Linked DNA regions of Homo sapiens: region 2 is linked to region 1. Evidence: fine-mapped QTL for protein levels in blood plasma. Region 1 holds a variant in brackets. A gene starts in the other region. All regions are shown on their reverse strands. Region 1 holds the start of JRK (Jrk helix-turn-helix protein). Region 2 holds the start of GHRL (ghrelin and obestatin prepropeptide).

What was found. A credible set is the group of variants that fine-mapping cannot tell apart. PIP is the posterior inclusion probability: the model's chance that the variant is causal. The UK Biobank Pharma Proteomics Project read protein levels with antibody pairs (Olink). The fine-mapping took linkage between variants from a reference panel, not from the people measured, so its PIPs are less certain.
Region 2: it holds the start of GHRL, and the variant in region 1 is the best candidate, but not a certain one, in a credible set for the plasma level of the GHRL protein (UK Biobank, PIP 0.60).

What each region holds. Positions count from the first base shown.
Region 1 is chr8:142,668,540-142,679,499 of GRCh38, reverse strand. JRK (Jrk helix-turn-helix protein) reads left to right here and starts at 9,533. Exons shown (of 2, transcript NM_003724.4): 1 at 9,533-9,568. It also overlaps a transcript of PSCA not described here. RefSeq lists silencers at 9,187-9,336, 9,587-9,876 and an enhancer at 9,337-9,486. The variant A/G (reference allele first, on the strand shown) is at 739.
Region 2 is chr3:10,290,038-10,300,809 of GRCh38, reverse strand. It overlaps GHRL (ghrelin and obestatin prepropeptide), which reads left to right and starts at 7,863. Exons shown (of 6, transcript NM_016362.5): 1 at 7,863-7,968; 2 at 9,359-10,094; 3 at 10,601-10,737. The coding sequence starts at 10,630. It overlaps GHRLOS (ghrelin opposite strand/antisense RNA), which reads right to left. Exons shown (of 6, transcript NR_073568.1): 6 at 7,361-8,742. RefSeq lists enhancers at 7,671-7,965, 7,776-8,025, 8,036-8,105, 9,617-10,219.

The sequences.
Region 1 (10,960 bases):
TGGGGGCTGTGTCACAGGCCATGGTCCCTCATATTTGGCTCAGAATAAATGTCTTCAAATATTTTACAGAGTTTGGCTCTTGTTGACACAGGGGACAGCCTCCCTGGGGAGGAGACCCTGTTGGACGGGCCTTCATTTATGGGGCATTCAGTGTGGGCTGAGCCCTGGGCTAGGTGCTTTACCCTCAGGACCTTGAGTGACCCCCTCAGCTTGGAACTTTAGCTGCAAACGAGTCGGGGAAGTGCAGCTTTTAGCAGCCTCTGCAGTAGCAGGAGGCAGCGGCTAGGCCCAGGGCTGTATGGCCTCTGTTTGCCCCAGATCCCCTCTCCGTCCTGCTCCATGTCCTGGGAGGCTGGTCCAGCTCCCACAGGCAGGAGATGAGAGAGTGGAAGAGGCAAGTTCAGGCCAGCTCTCCTGCCAGTCAGCTGGGAGGTGGTGGCAGTGGCTATGGCCCTCTAGAGCAGGCCCAGCCCGCTGGGCGGTGGTGGCAGTGGCTATGGCCCTCTAGAGCAGGCCCAAGCTCTCATGCCAGTCAGCTGGGCGGTGGGTGGTGGCAGCGGCTATGGCCCTCTAGAGCAGGCCCAGGCTCTCATGCCAGCTGGCTAAGTGTTGGTGGCAGTAGCTATGGTCCTCTAGTACAGGCCTAGGCTCTCCTGCCAGCCGGCTGAGTGTTGGTGGCAGTAGCTATGGTCCTCTAGAGCAGGCCCAGGCTCTCCTGCCAGCCAGCTGGGTGGTGGT[A/G]GCAGTGGCTAGGACCCTCTAGAGCAGGCCCAAGCTCTGCTGCCAGTGGCTGGGTGGTGGTGGCAGTGGCTATGGCCCTCTAGAGCAGGCCCAGGCTCTCCTGCCAGTGGCTGGGTGGTGGTGGCAGTGGCTATGGCCCTCTAGAGAAGGCCCAGGTCCCGTCAGCCAGGCTTCTCCTGTCCCCCGGGTTCTGGCCAGCCTCTGGTCACTGTGCTCTCCCCCTCATCCCTGCAAGCCCGAGGGGCTGGTGGCTTCCTGCTGCTGGCTGGCTTTGAGGGGGACTTGTGGCCGCTGCTGTCTCCTTCAACCTGACCCCTGCCTTTGTACATGGACCCTGAGTTAGATAACTCTGCCTGGCAACCCTCTTGGGTATGCTGTTGTTCCTGCCGGAAGCTGGTAGGTCCACTGTGGTCCGTGGCCCTGCCTGCTGCCGAGTGTGTGTCTGGAGGGAGACCGGCCCCTTCTCCCCTGACGCTCTCTCGTCCCCGCTGATGGTTGTCCGGCCTTCATTGTTACCTCCTCTCCTCGATTTTGCCCCTGAAAAGGCTCTGGCACATTTTAGGGGGTGGTGAGGATGTTGCAGTCAGGAAAAGTCTCGGGGAATCGGACCCTCTCCCAGCAGGTCTGCACCGTCCAGGAAGGCCTGCACCGTCCAGGAAGGCTGGTAGATGTTTCTGGGGTGTTCAGGGGACATCAGCTTCCCACTGTCTCACCTTGAGTCTGGGATCAAGGTGACACTACTGATGGGGGCAGGGACGATGCAAGACCCGACCTCCCTGGGACTCAGTGGCACCAGGAATCTGCCTTTGGGCTTCCCCCGGGGCTCCAGGTCAGCCCCTGTCCTTCTGAGGTCTCTCCTGCCTGCCTCCCTGGAACCCACTGGGTTGGGCTCTTTTCCATGGAAATTGTCTCTTCTCTGGCAAGTGAGGAGCCTGAGCCCAAGAGGGACAGGAACTTACTGGAGGCCATGCAGGGTGACTGCAGCCTCCCCCAGACTCCTTGCTTGCCCACTCTGCCCACCCAGAACTTTCCCTCTGGACACGCCCTCCAGCCCATGTCCTGTAAGCTCAGGACAAGGGGCCTCATACAGTCATGAACTGCTTCCGTGTGTGGCTGACAGCCCCTGTCCCATCCTCCCTCCGCCCCCCGCCCCAGCTCGCCCGGACTCTGGCCACTCCCGCACAAGACGTTTTCTTATCTGTCTCTGTGTTCAAGGTGCCAGCCTGGAACTTTCCGTCCTCAAATATTTATAGGTGTGTAAGTGTTTGTTGATCTGATTTGATACACAGTGATTGCTGTAAGGCAGTGGTTCTCACGTGGGTGACTCTGCACCGCCAGGGAATGTTTGGTGATGTCTGGAGGCATCTCTGCTTATTCCAGCTCAGGGGTGCTGCTGGCCTCTAGTGGGTGCAGGCCAAGGAGGGGGCAACACACAGGATCCCCACCACAGAATCCGCAGCCCCAGCATCCGCCGCACTGAGGGTGTGGCTGGTCTGAGGATGGCCCCGTGGTCATGGCTCCTATACGGAAGACCATGGCTGTGACATTCCTAGAGCCCCACCCCTGACCACAGGTTGGGTTCTGACCTCACCCCAAAACTGAGCCCTCACTGTGGTCAGTCTGAACTCTAATCCTGGTTACCTAACGAGCCCTGGTTACGGCCCCACCCTGAGCCCTGGCCCTGGCCACTGGCTGAGCCCTGATCCTGGTCACAGAATGAACCCTGACTGTGGTCACCCTCTGATTTTTGACCCTGGTCACAGGCGAATCCCTGTCCCCTGTCATTCACACTTTGGCCATACACTGAATGCAGCCCCTGAGCCTAAACTGAGCCTGGATCTTCTGGCAGTTCTCCTTTCTGGGAAGTTCTGCCACAAGGGGCATGGCTTCCTGCAGATCCTCATCCGGTGGACAGGGGCTGAGAGGCTGATGTGAGTGATAATAAAACTCCAGTCTCCCGGTCAGCTGGCTCTGTGTGAATTAAACTCTTTCTCTATTGTGATTCCCCTGTCTTGATAAATCGGCTGTATCTTGCCAGGGGTCAAAATGAACCCCCTGGGTGATCACACACTAGTGTATTTTCTTCCTTCTCTTCCTCTCTTTCTGATCCCTCCCCAGTGCCAGAATGGACTTGGTCTTTGAGAAGAGATCCAAGGTTCCCTGAGTAATGGTAGGAGCACCTGGGGGAGCCCCATGCATCTTGGGGATCAGGCCCCAGTTCCGACCCCAGTTCCATGCCAATCTCCACTCCCCACCAGCAGCACCCAAGTCCTGGGAGACCAAGTGATCCCGTCCCTGAGGTGGTAAGCAGTCACACCAGGGATGGAACCAGCCTTCCTGTCCCAGGAGACCCTGCCTTGGGAACCCCCATCCAGCGGCCCTGGGTTCTAGTCCCACCATGTGCCTGGTATGCCCCATGACTAAGCGTCCTCCACTGTGAAACATCTGACTCTAGCATGCTCAAATTCCTGACCCACAGAATCATGTACAATAACAACAGTTAGTGTGGCTTCAGTGTGACTCACCCTTGGCCTCCTTCCTCTTCTCTGCCAGTTGCCTCCAGGGACTCCAGATTTTCCTGTTTGCTCTTGGCCTTCTGCCCACCCACCCCACTGCCATGGGCCCAAAGCAGCCGGGTTCCCTGGAGATCCTGTCTTCCACCTAGTGCAGGGCATGAGGCCGGGGCCAGGACAGCCGGACCAGGCCCTGGGGCTTCTGGGAGCTGACTCACCTTGCAGGGAGTCCCACCACCACCTTCTGGGGCCCCACACGGTCCCATGCTGGAACACACATCCCTGTGTGTAATTTTTTTTATTTCATGCAGCATTAATTAAAAAAATAAAGATAGCATGTCACTTGCAAAGCCACGCTGGTGTCAGTTTTTAGCATCTTTGCTTTGGAAAAACGCCCTTGCAGATCAGGAGGAAAACCCACTGATGCACATGGGTTGGCTGGGGGCACTCAGTGCCAAGCCCCCATTTGGGTTCTGGAAATTAAGGCCATGACTTGCAAGCTGTGTGTGTGTGATATGTGACTGTGAGGGTTTGTATGTGCCAACTATGTGGGCATGGGAGTGTGCCACATAGTGTGTGTGAGAGTGTGAGAGAGGATGCTTGTCTGTGCATGTGGATCAAATGTGCAAATGTGTGGCATGTGTGTAAATGCAAGTGAGTGTGGGTGTGTGCACCGGTTGTGTGTTGTGTAAGCAAAAGCATGTGTGTAAATGTGGGTGTGTTGGGGCCACCAAGTCCTGAGGGCTGTGCAGCTTGGAGCCCCTCAGAGGCGTTCTTCCCCAAGCCCACCCAGCTGGGGCCCACAGGCCCTCCCCATCTCTAACTCCCCCAGGGCCCTGTGTTCCCAGAGGAGGTGCCTTTTCCTGGCTCTCACAAAGGCGTCATCAGGGCCCTGCCCCAAACCAGCTCCCCTCCTGCCTGGGCACTAAGGTGGAGATGGGCACTGCCCCAGCCCCTGCCCCACCAGCCAGGCCCCTTGGCCTCCAATGACCCTCAGAACCACCCCCACCACTCTGCACCCTCTGCTCCTGCCACTCCCCCTTCCTGGAGTGAACTCAGACTGGGGAGGAGACCCAAGGCACACCCTTCCCTTCCAGCTGGGCACAGCCTCACCAGCACCCCCAGCCACCCCTGCTATGAGAGGCCTGTCATCCAGAGACCTCCAGAAGGAGGGCTGGCTGGGACTGCCCCAACCTGAGGCCTCCGGCACCTGAGCAAAGGACACTGCCGGATACAAGCCCACCTCCAGGCAGAGGGAATAGCAGGCACGGGGGATGACCCATGGGCTTCGGAGAGGACAGTGAGGGGTTAGCTCCGGCGTGGCCTTGTGGCCCAGCGAGGACCTGAGCTGTATTCAGAGTGCACAGGCTTATTTGGGCAGGGGGAGTGACTGGCCCTGTCAAATGCCACTCTGACTGTGGGTGGAGATGGGGAAGCCAGTGCAGAAGCAGGCTGCTGTAGTGGCCCAGGCATGGTCTGGAGGCTCCGCTCAGTAGGGAAGCAGGCTGGTGCAGTGGCCCAGGCATAGTCTGGGGGCTCTGCTCTGCGAACTTGGGGCATGGCTGGGGGAAGGGAGTCCTCAGAGCCAGCCCCCAGGAGACACTGGAAACTGCCTTTGTAAAAGTTTTAACAGTGAGAAAATGGTGATGGTGAAGGAGATCTGATCTAACCCACAGCCAGTTAATCTCCAAACTGCCCTTAGTCATTTCTGGGCATAACAGCCCTTTTCCAAAACTCAGCCATCTTTGTAAAGCTAACGAAAGGCCACCACTGCATGAGGAAGATGAGGGGATCTGCGCTCTGCTGAGGTTAGACTGAAATGATTCCCAGCCGTTATTCATTAGGAAGATGGGGGATCTGAGCTCTGCTGAGGTTAGACTGAAACGATTCCCAGCCGTTATTCATTAGGAAGATGAGGGGAGTCTGAGCTCTGCTGAGGTTAGACTGAAACGATTCCCAGCCGTTATTCATTAGGAAGATGGGGGATCTGAGCTCTGCTGAGGTTAGACTGAAACGATTCCCAGCCGTTATTCATTAGGAAGATGGGGGATCTGAGCTCTGCAGAGGTTAGACTGAAACGATTCCCAGCCGTTATTCATTAGGAAGATGGGGGATCTGAGCTCTGCTGAGGTTAGACTGAAACGATTCCCAGCCGTTATTCATTAGGAAGATGAGGGGATCTGAGCTCTGCTGAGGTTAGACTGAAACGATTCCCAGCCGTTATTCATTAGGAAGATGGGTGATCTGCGCTCTGCTGAGGTTAGACTGAAACGATTCCCAGCCGTTATTCATTAGGAAGATGAGGGGATCTGAGCTCTGCTGAGGTTAGACTGAAACGACTCCCAGCCGTTATTCCAGGGACCACAAGATTTGCAACTCCCCCAATTACTCCTGCAAGTAACATCACTATTGTGATCCTAAGATTGGCCTTGTGAGATGTCGTTTCAGGTTTTTGCACGTCTAATGACTGATGGATGGCTCTAGCGAGGCCCACCAACCCCGCAGCCGGTCCTGTGGCCCCACCTGGACGCAAACTCAGTGCACAGGAGGACCATTTTCCACATCCCCAGCCAACCAGCAGCACCCATTCCCTGGCCCACCAGACTCTCCTTGAAAAACCCTAGCGTCCGAATTTTCTGAGAGGCTGATTTGAGTGATGATAAAACTCTGGTCTCCCGTTCAGCTGGCTCTGCATGAATTAAACTCTTTCTCTATGGCAATTCCCCTGTCTTGCTAAATCAGCTCTATCTTGCCAGGGGTCAAAATGAACCCACTGGGTGATTACACGCTAGTGTATTTTCTTCCTCTCTTTCTGACCCCTCCCAGTGTCAGAATGGACTTGGTCCTCGAGAAGAGGCCCAAGGTTCCGTGAGTAATGGTAGGAGCACCTGGAGGAGCCCCATGCATCTTGGGATGAGGCCCCAGTTTCATGCCAATCCCCACTGCCCACCAGCACTGTCCAAGTCCTGGGAGACCACGTGATCCCATGTCCCTGAGGTGGCAGTTAAAAATAGGAGTTAAAAATAAATTATTTAGGCAGATAGTGAGGGTAAGGAAGTCCTCAGTAAGGTTTTCCTTTTAATGAAAAGCAGGCTCCAAATCATTTTCTTTTCTAACAAAGAGCAGCCTGTAAAATCGAGCCGCAAACATAAGACAAGCAAGCTGGAAGCTTGCACGCGTGAATGCCAGCAGTTGTGCCAATGGGAAAAAGCTACCTGAGACTAGGCATGATCAAAATGGCAGCTCCATCTTCCCTTCTCTTTGCCAGCCATGTGTACAGCAAGGAGCAGACAAGATGGTGCTGGCCAAGTAGAAGCCCATTTGCATAATAAGATTAGGGTGGGGCGACCAGCCTTCCCCACGCCATATGTAAACATCACCCTTGGTCATACCAATCTGTGGGCCCTTTGTAAATCAGACACTGCCTCCTCAAGCCTGCCTATAAAATCTGCTGGGGTCTGCTGCAGGCTGGCTTTTCTCTTTTGGACGCCTCTTTCGAAAGAGAGGGCTGCTCTCTTCTCTCCTTTCTTCTGTCTATTAAACTTTCTGCTCCTTAACCCATCTACATGAGTCCATGTCCTTAATCTTCTTGGTGTGAGACAATGAACCCCAGGTATTTACCCCAATGATGCTGCTTCAGCAGCAGAGTCGCACCAGGGATGGAGCCAGCCTTCCGGGGGAGGGAGGACTTTGCTGTCCCAGGAGACCCTGCCATGGGAGCCCCAGTCCAGGGACCTTGGGTTCCAGTCCTGCCATGTGCCTGGTATGCTCCGTGACTCAGCCTCCTCTGTGAAACACATCTGACTCTAGCATGGCCAAATTCCTGCCCCACAGAATCATCTGCAATAAAAACAGTTGGTTTCAAGCTGCTAAGTTTTGGGCGGTTTTTGATGCAGCAGTTGATAGCTGTATGGGGGTAAGGGCAGAAACAGAGACTGGGGAGGAGGCAAGACCACAGAGGTGTGGATTGGGGAGGGCAGTTGGAGGGAGTGAGAAGAGGCCAAACACTGGCTGGATTTTGAGGGTAGAGGATCTGGATATGAGGGATGGAGACTGTTGAGGCTGAGCCTGAGTGAATAGCAAGGTGAGCTGCCGTTCATGAAGGTGGGGGCAATGCAGATGGAGCAAGGCTGGGCTGGAGGATCAAAGCTAAGCAGAGACATTGGCTAGCACATAGGAGTCTGGATTTCTGGGGAGGGGCCCTGGCAGGAGACATGAATTTGGTCGTTGCCAGTGTTGGATGGTATTTAACGGCATGACACTGGAGGAGATCACCCAGGGAGTGGGGACTGGTTGAACAAAAAGAGCCAAAGAATGGCCTGGTCAGTAAGGAACCAGCAAGGGAGGGTGAGGAAGAGAAGAACCAGAGGGTGGGAGGGTGCTGGGAGCCCAGGTAACAACGGACCTAAGGATGAGTGAGCTGGCACATGGGCTCGTGCCTGGAATCCCAGCATTTTGGGATCGCTTGAGTCCACGAGCTCGAGACCAGCCTAGGCAACACAGCTAGACCTCGTTTCCACAAAAAATTAAAAAGATAGGTGAGACAGTGCATGCTTGTAGTCCCAGCTACTCTGGGGGTTGAGGCAGGAGGATCCCTTGAGCCCAGGAGGTTGAAGCTGCGGTGAGGAGAATGTACCACTGCACTCCAGCCTGGGCAACAGAGTGAGACCCTACCTCAAAAAAGGAAAAAGGAGGAGTGAGCTACCCAAATCTGTATTTGTTTATTATTGCTGTCCTAACAAATTACCATAAACGTGGTGATCCAAAACAATACAAATTTATATCTTACAGCTCTGGGTTCAGAAGTCTAATGGCACAATGAGTGTCATGGGCTAAGATCAAGGGGTCAGCAGGCTGCATTCCTTCTGCTGGCTCCAGGAGAGGCCCTGTTTCCTTGTCTCTCCCAGCCACTAGAAGCCGCTCATAGTCCTTGGCTTGTGGCCCCTTCCTCCATCTTCAAAGCACATCACTCCAACCCCTGTGTCTGTTGTCACATTTCCTTTTCTCTCCTCTTTCATCCCATTGTCCTCTCACTTGGCTTCCTAACTCCCACAAGAACCCCTGATATGGCACCTGCCCTCCTATCTGAACCCGTGGGCTCTGCATCCAGATGGAACCAACCGAGGATACAAACAATTCGGAAAAAAACCTGTGTCTGTACTGAACATGTACAAATTTTTCTCTTGTCACTATTCCCTAAACAATACTGTATAACAACTATCTACATAGCGCTTACATTGTATTAGGTATTATAAGTAATCTAGAAGTGACTTAACGTATACGGGAAGATGTGTGTAGGTTATATGCAAATACGAAGCCATTTTATGTAAGGGATTTGAGCATCAAGGATTTTAGCATCCTTGAGAAGTGCTGGAACCAATCCTCTATGGATACCCAGGGACGACTGCACATTGGGCTCACCCTGATAAACATAAGAATCTCTCCACCTAAAGAATCTTAACTTCATTGCATTTGCAGTCCCTTTTGCCATGTAAGTAATGTATTCACAAGACCTGGAAGTTAGGATGTGGACATCCTTGGAGGGCCATTATTCTGCCCACCACAGTCCACCCTCCAGTTTCCAAAATTTGCATAGGTCCCATGGGCAAAATCCACGCACCCATCTCAAGGTCCTCCACAGCCTCAACTCATTACAGCACCAACTCAGGTCCATACTCACTTAAGTCGCACCCAGTTCAAAAGTTTCAAATCCCATCGTCTGAATCATCTAAATTGGGTATGGATTGGACCCCAGCTAAGTAAGGGGGTCAAGCAGGCGGGCTGAGCACTGGTCCTGGTGACCGGAAGGCAGCACTGCCCTCCCCGCATCAGAAACTGCACCGGGAAGACCGTCCTGGGCTGATCGGCACGAAACCCTGGGCGCCTGTGGCTGCCCCAGAACTGCAGGAGCCCCAACGCCTTCAGCGCAGGGTTCACTGTCATGAAAGGAATGTGACGCCCTGCGCCCATTCTACAGATGGAGAGAGCAGGGCGGAGCCCGGGGCCCAGGCCGCGCGCCCCGCCTTCGCCCCGTTTCCCCTCTCCCCTCCCTGCCCGCGCCTTCTCCCCTCCCACGCCTCCCCCCACCCTGGGACCCCCCCACTCCTCTCCTCCAGGCCTCCTCTCCTCCCACGCCCTCCGCGGCCACCCAGCTCTTTGAAAGCCTGCGTCTGGCTCCCAGACACCACCGAGTGCTGAGTCCTCCAGCCTGTCTAGAGCGTCCCGGAAGTAGCTGGGGGAAGGCGACGAGGCGCGGACTGGAGGAGAACCGAGTGGCCGGCACTTCCGGCCGGCGGCGGCTGCTCCGGGTGAGCAGGGTGAGTAGGGTCCTGGCCTGAGGCGCTGGGCGGCCGGGCCGGGCCGGATGGGTGCGGGCGCTCTCCGGTCCCTGGTGGGCGCGGGCGGCGCGGGCGGGAGCCGCAGTCTGGGCAGGCGGGCGCGCGGGGCGGGGCGGGGTTGGTCGCGAGGCTGCGGGGCCGGACCCAGCCGCGGGCGGCAGCGCCCCCTCCCGGGAGCCGCGCTCGGAACCCGAAGCCCTGTGCTTCCCGCGCGACCCCCGCGGCCTGAGCGCGCGGCCCCCGAGCCGCACCCACCCCTTGCCGCCAGGCCTGGCCTTGACGCCCCAGCCCGGACCCTTCCTGCGCTTCCACTCTCAGAGAGGCTTGGTCACGAGGTCCGCTTGCCCTTAAAAAACCAGACCGAGACTTTTTTTTCTCCATTTCTGTTTTTGTTCTTGTTCTTGTCCCAGACTGAATTTCTACCCACAAACGGGGACCCTGGGGTACGGACGCTTTTTAAGCGAGCCTCGCCAGTAGCCCAGCGCTGTCTCTGCGCCAGGATCCCCCAGCGTGGAGGGCTCCTAGCGGAACTCGGCGCCGGCTCTCGGGCGCTCTCTGCGGGGCGCACGGCCCCAGGCTTTCTGTCCCCTCCTTCTCTGTCCCATACTCTCCTTCTGACCCCCAGCTCACCTCTTCCCCCAGCTCCAGAATGCGACTTGTTTTTTGAGTATTTCTCCTTCATATCCTCCATACCCCCCAACACACACACGCACACACACACACACACACACACACACACACACACACTATGCCCCTGCGAAGGTTGTTTCCCGCTTTCCCCCCGCGTTTCTCAGGGCCTCTTAGCCTCACACAGGACGGAGTCAGCCCCAGCGCTGGCCCCTCAGGCCTCCCGTTTCTTGTCTGTGCCTTGGGCACAGGAGAATTGCACGTTTCATCCCGTGTTCACGTGGCCTTGGGGATCAGTGCTTCCTCTCCAGTCGCAAGGCAAGAAACCACCCTAATTTCGGGGAGACAGGGAATCCCACAGTAGCTTGTGAGGGGCTGACTGGGGACTGGGATGCCGGGAAAAGCGTCCTGGAGGAGACTCAGCACCAGACACGGGCTCCTTGTGGACACGTCTCCATGCCTGACGTGCAGGTGTGGCAGGATGACACAAACTGGCAGAACACACTGTTGTCCCACTTGCAAGACCAAAAACTTCCTTTAAAAATAAAATTCAGATATTCCTTATGAAACAAGTTCAGCCACTTTGTGTCATCCTGCTACACCTGCATGTCAGGCATGGAGACGTGTCCGCGAGGAGCTGTGTCTGGTGTTGAGTCTCCTCCAGGAAGCTTTTCTCTGCATCCCAGTCCCCAGTTAGTCCCTCATAAGCTACTGTGGGATTCCGTGTCTCCCCCAGTTTTTCTA
Region 2 (10,772 bases), not on the chromosome of region 1:
ACAAAGGTGGCTTGTCACTGCATGAGCATCTCTGATTCAGTTTATACTGAAAGCACCATACAGAGCACTGGACTCAGCCTTTGGTGACAAGGACTGTAGCCCTGGGTCTGCTACTTACCCTCTCGGTACACATCCTGTTCTGCAGAATGGGACTAATACAGTCTGCCCTACAGGATGGCTGCAAGATTCAAACACGCTAGTGCATCTGGTGACCTACAAAATGCCACGCAGGTGCAACGTGGTATTAACCAAACACCAATAGTTAAGATGCTGGCCCAGAAAGTGGGCACGATTCATTTAGTTTATTGACCCTGTCAGGAAAAGGAGGGCCCCATGATGGGAGACCTAACTGACCCTGAACCAGGTATCACCTTTCAGCGGAGGCCCTGTGACCCTGACAATCGCCATAGCCATCAGTGAGCCTGCGGTGAGCCAGACCCTACACTGGATCTTTCACACATTCGCTAATTTAAGCAACACGAGAACCCCGTGTGGGTGTACCCAGTTCACTGATGAGGAAGCGCTCAGAAGGTAGAAGCCCTGCCCAGGACTGTGCAAACGTAAAGCCAGCGTCAGGGCCTGGCCCATCTCAACAGTTACTCCCCACTGTAGAATCAGGGTGGGAGCTGGGGGGCTCTCCTCAGCTGTAATACAAGGATGTTTCTCACACCAAACCTTTGTATGAATAGATTCAGATAAAAGGTCAGCCCACTTGCCTCAGGCCCCCTAGTCTGCCTACTTCTTGTCCTTCCCTCCTTTTTCAGCAGCAAAATCCCCTTTAAAAAAAAAAAAAAATCTTTGATCATACTATGTAACATAGAAGAAAGTGAAACTGCTTTGGTTAAAGGTGAGGACAGAGAGGCCATGGCCTGGCCCAGTCAGCCTCCAGTCAGTCCACAAAGCCCAAGCCTTCTGAGACCAACATGAAAACAGCTGCTTCCTTCCTTCCCTTACTCAGAAAAGCAAAGCCCAGGAAGGCACCTTCACGTGCACTACTGAGTGTCGAGTTCTACAGTGAATCCTTGAACCATATCCACGTCTGCCTCCCTGATACGCTCTGTGCTCCTCAAGCCTGGGCCTGGGCTTCCTATGGTGCCAGCTGCTGTCGCCAAGAAAATACCGAGAAGGAACTAGTCCCGTGTCACTCTGGGTTGGTGGTAGGTTAATGGGTCCCTGACTGTGTGCTCTATTTTAACTCCCACCACCAAGGATTGGTTAAGATAATTATGAAGTTGGCACCATAATAGTTGTTTATACTTAGAGTGGCAACACATTAACCATTCCTGGGTAAGAGGAGACCCCAAAATTTATTACCACAAAATAGCCTAGTCAAATAGAAATACTATCTGTAAAACTTGCCGGGCAGTTGTCAAGCCCAAATGAGATAAAAGTAAGGGAAATTTAAAAGGCATAGAGCTCTGGTTAGGGCCAGATGGCGCTAGCAGCCATATGTTTTTAATCCTTTTGCAAAAACAAAGCAACTGGGACAGCAAAAGAAACCCACAGACCCTAGAACATGGAGCAGGCCAAAGCCTTCATAGACACAATACCTCTGAGAGATCAGCAGGGTGAAGAAAAGGGAGTTTTTATGGTGCTATAAGCCAGAGACCCCAAAAATTGCCATCAAATACTCATCCATTCTGAGTGCAAAACTCAGCAAGCCACTGTGAAAACAACTCCCAAAACTAGAAGATTCACAGGCTTCCATTTACAAGTGAGCCCAGAAACACTAAGGGGAGACCTTCCACTTCTGCATATAAAGGATTAACGATTGTAAGAATTTCCCAGCCAACATGGTGGCTCACAACTGTAATCCCACACTTCGAAAGGCCAAGACGGGCGGAATGTTTGAGCCCAGAAATTCAAGACCAGCCTGCCAACATGGCAAAACCCCATCTCTACTAAAAATACAAAAATTAGGTGCAGTGGTGTGTGCCTCTGTAGTGCCAGCTACTCAGGAGGCTGAGGCACAAGAATCGCTTGAGCCCAGGAGGTGGAGGTTGCAGTGAGCCGAGATTGCACCACTGCACTCCAGCCTGGGCAAGAGAGTGAGACTCTGTCTAAAAAAAAAAAAATTTCCCTGGCTGGGCGCAGTGGCCAGCACTTTGGAAGGTTGAGGGAGGAGGATCTCTTGAGCCCAGGAGTTTGAGATCAGCCTGGGCAACACAGCAAGAGCCTGTCTCTTTAATAATAAATAAGAATTTCCCTCACACTATAGACAACTAGGAAATTAATTCAAGATGGATTAAAGACTTAAACGTTAGACCTAAAACCATAAAAACCCTAGAAGAAAACCTAGGCATTACCATTCAGGACATAGGCATGGGCAAGGACTTCATGTCTAAAACACCAAAAGCAATGGCAACAAAAGCCAGAATTGACAAATGGGATCTAATTAAACTAAAGAGCTTCTGCACAGCAAAAGAAACTACCATCAGAGTGAACAGGCAACCTACAAAATGGGAGAAAATTTTCACAACCTACTCATCTGACAAAGGGCTAATATCCAGAATCTACAAAGAACTCAAACAAATTTACAAGAAAAAAACAACCCCATCAAAAAGTGGGCGAAGGACATGAACAGACACTTCTCAAAAGAAGACATTTATGCAGCCAAAAAACACATGAAAAAATGCTCATCATCACTGGCCATCAGAGAAATGCAAATCAAAACCACAATGAGATACCATCTCACACCAGTTAGAATGGCAGTCATTAAAAAGTCAGGAAACAACAGGTGCTGGAGAGGATGTGGAGAAATAGGAACACTTTTACACTGTTGGTGGGACTGTAAACTAGTTCAACCATTGTGGAAGTCAGTGTGGCGATTCCTCAGGGATCTAGAACTAGAAATACCATTTGACCCAGCCATCCCATTACTGGGTATATACCCAAAGGACTATAAATCATGCTGCTATAAAGACACATGCACACGTATGTTTACTGCGGCACTATTCACAATAGCAAAGACTTGGAACCAACCCAAATGTCCAACAATGATAGACTGGATTAAGAAAATGTGGCACATATACACCATGGAATACTATGCAGCCATAAAAAATGATGAGTTCATGTCCTTTGTAGGGACATGGATGAAATTGGAAATCATCATTCTCAGTAAACTATCGCAAGAACAAAAAACCAAACACCGCATATTCTCACTCATAGATGGGAATTGAACAATGAGAACACATGGACACAGGAAGGGGAACATCACACTCTGGGGACTGTTGTGGGGGGAGGGGACGGGGGAGGGATAGCATTAGGAGATATACCTAATGCTAAATGACGAGTTAATGGGTGCAGCACACCAGCATGTCACATGTATACATATGTAACTAACCCACATATTGTGCGCATGTACCCTAAAACTTAAAGTATAACAATAATAAAATAAAAAAATAAAATAAAATAAAATAATAAATTTAAAAAAAAAACAACAACTAGGAAATCATGAAAAGTACATGAAACAACTACTGCTTTCAGACATAGGACAACAGGCAGTGTTTGGGAAAAGGGAAACAGGTAAGCACAACAAATGCACCAGGTTACTACTACCCAGAAGCAGTTTCTGGGCCAAAAGGTAAAGAGAGACTCCAGAGTCTAGTAGTCTCCAGGAGTTGAAGAGACAGAAGTCAGAGTTCAGGAAGACCAAGGCAGGCCGGGCGCGGTGGCTCACGCTTGTAATCCCAGCACTTTGGGAGGCCAAGGCGGGCAGATCACCTGAGATCAAGAGTTCGAGACCAGCCTGGCCAACATGGTGAAACCCTGTCTCTACTAAAAATACAAAAATTAGCCGGGCGTGGTGTTGCACCCCTGTAATCCCAACTACTCGGGAGGCTGAGGCAGGAGAATTGCTTGAACCAGGGAGGCGGAGGTTGCAGTGAGCAAAGATTACACCACTGCACTCTGCCCTGGGCGAAAGAGCAAGGCTCTGTCTCAAAAAACAAACAAACAAACAAAAAAGACCAAGGCAGAACTGAAGGCAGAAGAGGACGAGAGGAGGAAGCTGCACAGAGCAAGCTCCTGAGAGCTGAAGAGTCTCCTGGAGTCTTTGGACAAGTACTAACCTTCATATATGAAGGGTGAAACCAATAGACCAAGCAGCTGGAGCTCACATAGGGGTGGGAATAGCCCATGTTCCCAGCAACCAGAAAAAAAAGAGACATTCCATCCAGAAGAACAAATATAAGAGTGGCAGCAGGCCAGGCGCCGTGGCTCACGCCTATAATCCCAACACTTTGGAAGGCTGAGGCGGGTGGATCACGAGGTCAGAAGTCCGAGATCAGCCTGACCAAGATGGTGAAACCCCATCCCTACTAAAATTAGCCAGACATGGTGGTAGGTGCCTGTAATCCCAGCTACTCGGGAGGCTGAGGCAGGAGAATTGCTTGAACCCGGGAGGTGGAGGTTGCAGTGAGCCGAAATCACGCCACTGCACCCCAGCCTGGGCGACAGAGCAAGACTCTGTCTCAAAAAAAAAAAAAAAAAAAAAGGAGCAGCAGCCAACTTCTCATCAGAAAGTAGGCAAACCATAAGAAAATTAACATCTTTAAAGTACTGAAAAAATTAAAAAAAAAAAAACCTGTCAGCCTCAAATTCTATACCTAGTGAAAATATATATATATTTTAATACAGACTCTTTCAAATAAAAGCTGAAAGAATTAATCACCAGCAGAGCTGCCATTACAAGAAATGTCAAAGAAGTTTCCTTCAGGCAGAAGGAAAATACTAGATGAAAAACAGGCTGGGCACAGCGGCTCACACCTGTAATCCCAGCACTTTGGGATGCTGAGGCAGCAGGATTGCTTAAGCCCAGGAGTGTGAGGCCAGCCTGACCGACATGGTGAGACCTTGTCTCTACAAAAAAAAATACAAAAATTAGGATTTACAAATACGACTTCAGGCCCAGCGCGGTGGCTCATGCCTGTGATCCCAGCACTTTGGGAGGCCAAGGCAGATGGATCACTTGAGGTCAGGAGTTCAAGACCAGCCTGGCCAACATGGCAAAACCCCATCTCTAGCAAAAATACAAAAATTAGCTGGGTGTGGTGGCGCATGCCTGTAGTCCCAGCTATTCAGGAGGCTGAGGCAGGAGAATTGCTTGAACCCAGGAGGTATGGGTTGCAGTGAGCCAAGATCACGCCACTGCACTCTAACCTGGACAACAGAGCAAGACTCCATCTCAAAAAAAAAAAAAAAAAAAAAAAAAAAACAAATATGACTTCAACATATTGCAAATACCTTCAACAACTCCGATATCCCTTTGCAAATATCCCTTTACAGGCTGAGGTGGGAGGATCAGTTGAGCCCAGAAGGTGGAGGCTGCAGTGAGTTGAGATCACGCCATTGCATTCAACCACAGGTGACACAGTGAGACCCTGTCTCAAATAAAAAAGAAAAGAAAAATGGATCTGCACTAAGGAATAAGGAGCAACACGATAGTAAATACCTGAGTTCATAAGACTTTTTCTTAATTTCTTTAATCTGTCTAAAAACTTTGGCTATTTAACATGCATTGTGGGGCTCATACCTTAAGTAAAAATAAAATGTGTGACAATAATATCACAAAGAATAGAAGTGGGGAAATGAAAGCATTCTGTGGTGCAGTTCTTACACTATCTGTGAAAGGATATCGTAGTTGTTGAAGGTATTCTGCAATATGTTGAAGTCATATTTGTAAATCCTAGAGCAACCACTCAAAGAATAGAACAGTACAGTATAGCTAATAAGCCGACGGTGAAGACAAAATGATACCATTCAAAACCCTCTAAAAGTGGTTATGACAAGAGAAAGAAAAGGAAGAACAGATGGGACAATGGAAAAATTGGTGACTTACAAATAGTCTGGAGATTAACAGTAATGTGCTAACACTGGTGTTTTAATTTTGATAAATGTACTACGGTTATATAAGATATTCACGAGTGGAAACTGAATTGGGTTATTCAGAGAGAAAGATTTCATCTTCCATATGTTTATATTTTCTGCTGGAAGCAAGCATTTATAATCAAAATTTACCTGGGATACTTGGTAATTTATAATCAAAATTACCTGAGATACTTGAAACAGATTCTAAAGCCCCCACGCCAGAGCTACTGGATCAGAATCCAAGGATGGAGTCTTATAAACGTGCATAAAACTTATGAAGCTTTCCTCATGAATCCAACACAACCCAACACAGGTCTGTATCTGGAAATTGAGACGAGATGGCCCTCCAAGCCACGTCCCACCCTGAGGTCGTCCTATGGCTCTTAGCGGTCCATAGACTAAAAGGCTGGATGATCAGCAACGCTGAGACAACAGTTTCAGTACAGCAGTGGGGATGAGAGGCAAGGTCAAGTTTTGAGGGGCCAGGACACAGCAAAGAAGAGGACACAAGGAAAGGGGAAGGAAATGGAGATGGTAACACGAGGGGAGGGTGGGATCGGTGCACAACAGACGTTTTCAGGATTAGGAACCTGGGTGTATTTTAAGGCAGAAAGCAGAAGCCACTGGAGGGGAACAGAAGACACGAGAGAGGCAAAGTGTTAGAGCTTTGGCCCCAAGATGGCCGGAGGCTAGGGAAGCCCCAGTGAGAGAGGCAGAGCTTGGCGAAGAGGAGGGATGAGAGAGCATGGCTAAGGTCAGGGAGGATTTAAGAGCGATGGCCGCCTATCTAGAATGAGCCGCATGTGGCTGCTGAGCATTTGAAACATGGCTAGTCCAAATTGAAATGCACTGTAAGAACACACACTGGATTTCAAAGACTACACATCTGTAATCCCAGCACTTTGGGAGGCAAAGTCAGGCAGATCACTTAAGCCAGGAGTTCAAGACCAGCCTAGGCAACATGTCAAGACTCTGTCTCTACAAAAAATACAAAAATTAACTGGGTGTGGTGGTGTGACCTGTAGTCCCAGCTACTTGGGAGCCTGAGGTGGGAGGATCATCTTAGTCCAGGGAGGTGGAGGCTGCAGTGAGCCATGATAGTGCCACTGCACTCCAGCCTGGGTGACAGAGCAAGAACCTGTCTCAAAAAAATATATATGTATATTCATTTAGACATATGCTGTTGCACACTTAGACTATAGTATGGTATCAGCATACGTTTTATATTTACTGGGAAACCAACAAAATTCGTGTGACTTGCTTCATTGTGGTCTGGGACCAAAGCTGTAATGCCTCCAAGGTATGCCTGTATATTTCTATTGCAAAATGTGAATCTCGAAATTATAAAAGCTACAACTAGGACAAAAAGCAACCCCACCAAATAGCCCTATATCAAAGAATAAAATCTCTTTCTAGAACCCCAGAATTTGCCTCTTTCAGACTGAAGTTTAGCCAAATCTATGAAAAAAGAGCTTGCTAAACCAACTAATTATCAGTACAAATAAAATTATAATGAAAAGTCTATGAAGATAATTTGTTCTCAGATGCCCTTCACATATAGCAATTAATTCACAAATGATGAGTCACTCATGTGCCTTCATGAAGGCAGGCCCTCAAGAGACCCGCAACAGAAAGGAAAGCCACCGACTGGAGAGAACCTGCTTCCTGAGCCCCACCAAGTTCCAAAAAGGAGAATGGGGCTTCGTCCTCACCCTCAAGGAGTTGCCAAACTGGGCTTGGTTATTATTCACACTTGAAAAGAATGAGGAAGGTCAGCCAGTCCCCTCCAGGTCGCTCGGGCTTCCTCCAAGCTCCTCTTGGTTCAAATTTGCTGTGTCCTCCAGCCGGCATCTCTCCTCTGTTCCGTAACTGACAGGGCAGCGAGGTAGCTTCCGGATGACTCCTCCCGCCATGGTTCTTCCGTCCATCAGCTCTTCCTTCCTCAACTCTGTGGTATGTGGCTAGGGGAGTTTCCAACTCCCAGGGGACATTTCAGTTCCCCAAAGATAACACAGCTTTGCACAGTGGATGTTTACTTGCTGGTGGTCTTATCTAAGATCAACATTGGCAGCTGTGCCCGGAGAGGCCTCCAGGGTCCAGGTAAGTGGAGGCTTCATGTCTCAGGAGGTACCTGGTCACCACAGTTAGGATTTTTCTGTTTGGGGATTTTTTTTTTTATGGGTTGGTGGCTCTGAAAAAGCTGCAAGTCTTCTCTGAGGACTACAGACCTCTCTCCACCCTCTCCACATTCAGCCTCTCTGGGCTCCAGGGCCAAAAGATGTCTACACTCAGGTGGCAGACAGGCCTGTGAAGACCTCCTGGTGACATGCTCATATGTTGCTGGGACTAAAGGTGGGATTTTAGCCACCACAGTGGGTTGGTGGTGAGATGTTTACCAACAGGAGGTACTTTGTCCCTCATGTCCACTTAAAGATTCAGTCCAACCCGGCCTGTGCTTCTGCTGTCCCAAGAGACTCTAGAAAGCTCCAATCCTCCCTGAGGTTGATCTTTTAAGTCAGGGTAGGTGGTCATTCGGCAATCAACTGCTCTACTGCCTCAATGTCCTCCTCACTGGACGTCCTGCCCCAATTCCATCCTGTTCAGCGCAGACTGATTTTCCTGGAACACAATGTTCATTATGGAGCCAGATGGCATATCAGAAAGAGCACTGTATTAGGAGTCAAGAGATCCATGGGGGAATCCCAGCATTGCCCCTGATGGCTGTATAGCTTTGGGGAAAGTGAGGCCCTCTTGGCATTCAGTTTTTCTTCCAGCGAAATAAAGGATTCAGCCTCCCAGAGCTTTAAAGTCTTTCCAACTCTTTCATTCATTCTATGGTCTCTCTCTCCTCAAGAATCCTCAGTGGCTGCCCTCCTGCAAAAAAAGCCCAAACTTCTTGGGCTAGCAGTTCCCAAGGCATCCATCACCTGGCCCCAAACCACCTTCTTATGTTTTTGTTATGACCCCATCGCCACCCTCCCCCAAGCCACCCAGCCTTCTCCATGCTGCCCTGATGTACTCTACCCACGCCTTCACCTCCCCTCTGCTTGCCGCAAAGCCCTCCCTCCAAAGCCCTGCCCCGAGTTCACCACAGGCCTCTTTCCTGGAGCCTTTGCTAACATCCCTGCCGCAAGCCCCAGCCTAAGGTGAGCTCCTCTCCTGAACTGCTAGAACTTCTCTGCAGACAACTCATTGGCCCTTAGGGGTTCCTGCCTGGGCACCCAGTTGGATGAAGCACTCCAGAAAGGAAGAAATTCCTGGGGCCGAGGGAAATGAGGCAGTGGCCTTGGCCTATGCTGGGAAGTCCTATGGGCCTGGTATGAAACCATTGTCATCTGCAGGGTGTTTCACAGGTTAGAAGCCACTTTCCCCCCATCGCCTCATTTCACCCTCAAAGACTCTGGGTAAGGGGAATTATTTGTGGTCGGCGTAAGGCCAGTCAATGAGAGAGGAGCCAGGCCCGTGCTAAGCGTAGATCTTCCACCTCCAGGTCCAATGCACTTCCCTCTCAGAAGAGGCATCCGCTAAAATAGGGACCAAAGCTGCTGGAGGGAGGCAAGGCAAGCTGCTATGTGAAAAAACGCCAGGCCAGGCAGTCATGTCACACCTGGCAGAAATGACTGAAGCATAGCCACTGGCTGAAGTTATCCCCACACCCACTCTCTGGAGAGGATGATCAGGAGCAGTCTGCTCAACCGGGAGGTGGGACTCCTCCTCGGGAAGGTGTAGAATCACCAGCCTGGCTCCCTGCGGACTCCCGGGGCTCACAGAGGCCAGAGCAGCAACAGCACATGGGAAACAACGGGGCGCTGGACTGGGGAGGTCTCAGAGCTCTCCTAGTGATGACAGCCTCATTTTACCCAGGGAGAAAGGGCGAGTAAGCTAAGGTCACACAGCAACAAAGCTGCACCCAGACCCCAGAGCCACTCTCCTCCCTCCCTCCTCCACCAGGGCCATGCCCACTTGGGGCACCCCGCCACCGTGTTCCAGGGACAGCTGGAGCACATGCTTCTTCCCTCGCCAACCCAGCAATTCCGCAGGGCATCTGACCTCCACTGTTGACTTCTACCCAGAGGACAAGAACATTTTTAGTTCCCAAGGAATGTACATCAGCCCCACGGAAGCTAGGCCACCTCTGGGATGGGGTTGCTGGTTTAGAACAAACGCCAGTCATCCTATATAAGGACCTGACAGCCACCAGGCACCACCTCCGCCAGGAACTGCAGGTAAGCTCTCTCTACTCTCCGTGTGCGTTTGCTGACAGGTTTATTGTCCGTGACTGCTGCCCGTCCGTTTAACCTCTCTGGGCCTCAGGAGTCCCCTCTAAACACGGGGGATGTCGGACTGTCTGGCTGGAAGACAGAGCTTCATTTAGGAGCTACCTCTAACCCCCTCCCTGCTGAGTGCCCTGGGGCCCTTGCTGGTTCAGCTTCCTCCCTCCTCATGAAAAGACTCGCCATGAGCTCTCAGAGCCTGGGACAAAAGGCACCGGGGAGGACCCCCAGCCCCTATCAAGTCCTGCTGCCAGGTGTTCTGCCCTGAACGGCCTTGGAGAAGAGAACACACATCCATCATCTTCTACCTTGGGAGGTGGAAGCGGGGGTCCTCTCTACACAGCAGTCAGGACCCCAGATGGTAAAGCCCTTCACGCCATCTGCTGGGCTCCTACCTGAGCAAGCTCAGAGGCACATGAGAAGGGGAGGCAGCTGCCTGGAGACCCTCTCTCCCCCAGGCCCACCTGTCTGCAACCCAGCTGAGGCCATGCCCTCCCCAGGGACCGTCTGCAGCCTCCTGCTCCTCGGCATGCTCTGGCTGGACTTGGCCATGGCAGGCTCCAGCTTCCTGAGCCCTGAACACCAGAGAGTCCAGGTGAGACCTCCCCACAAAGCCCCACATGTTGTTCC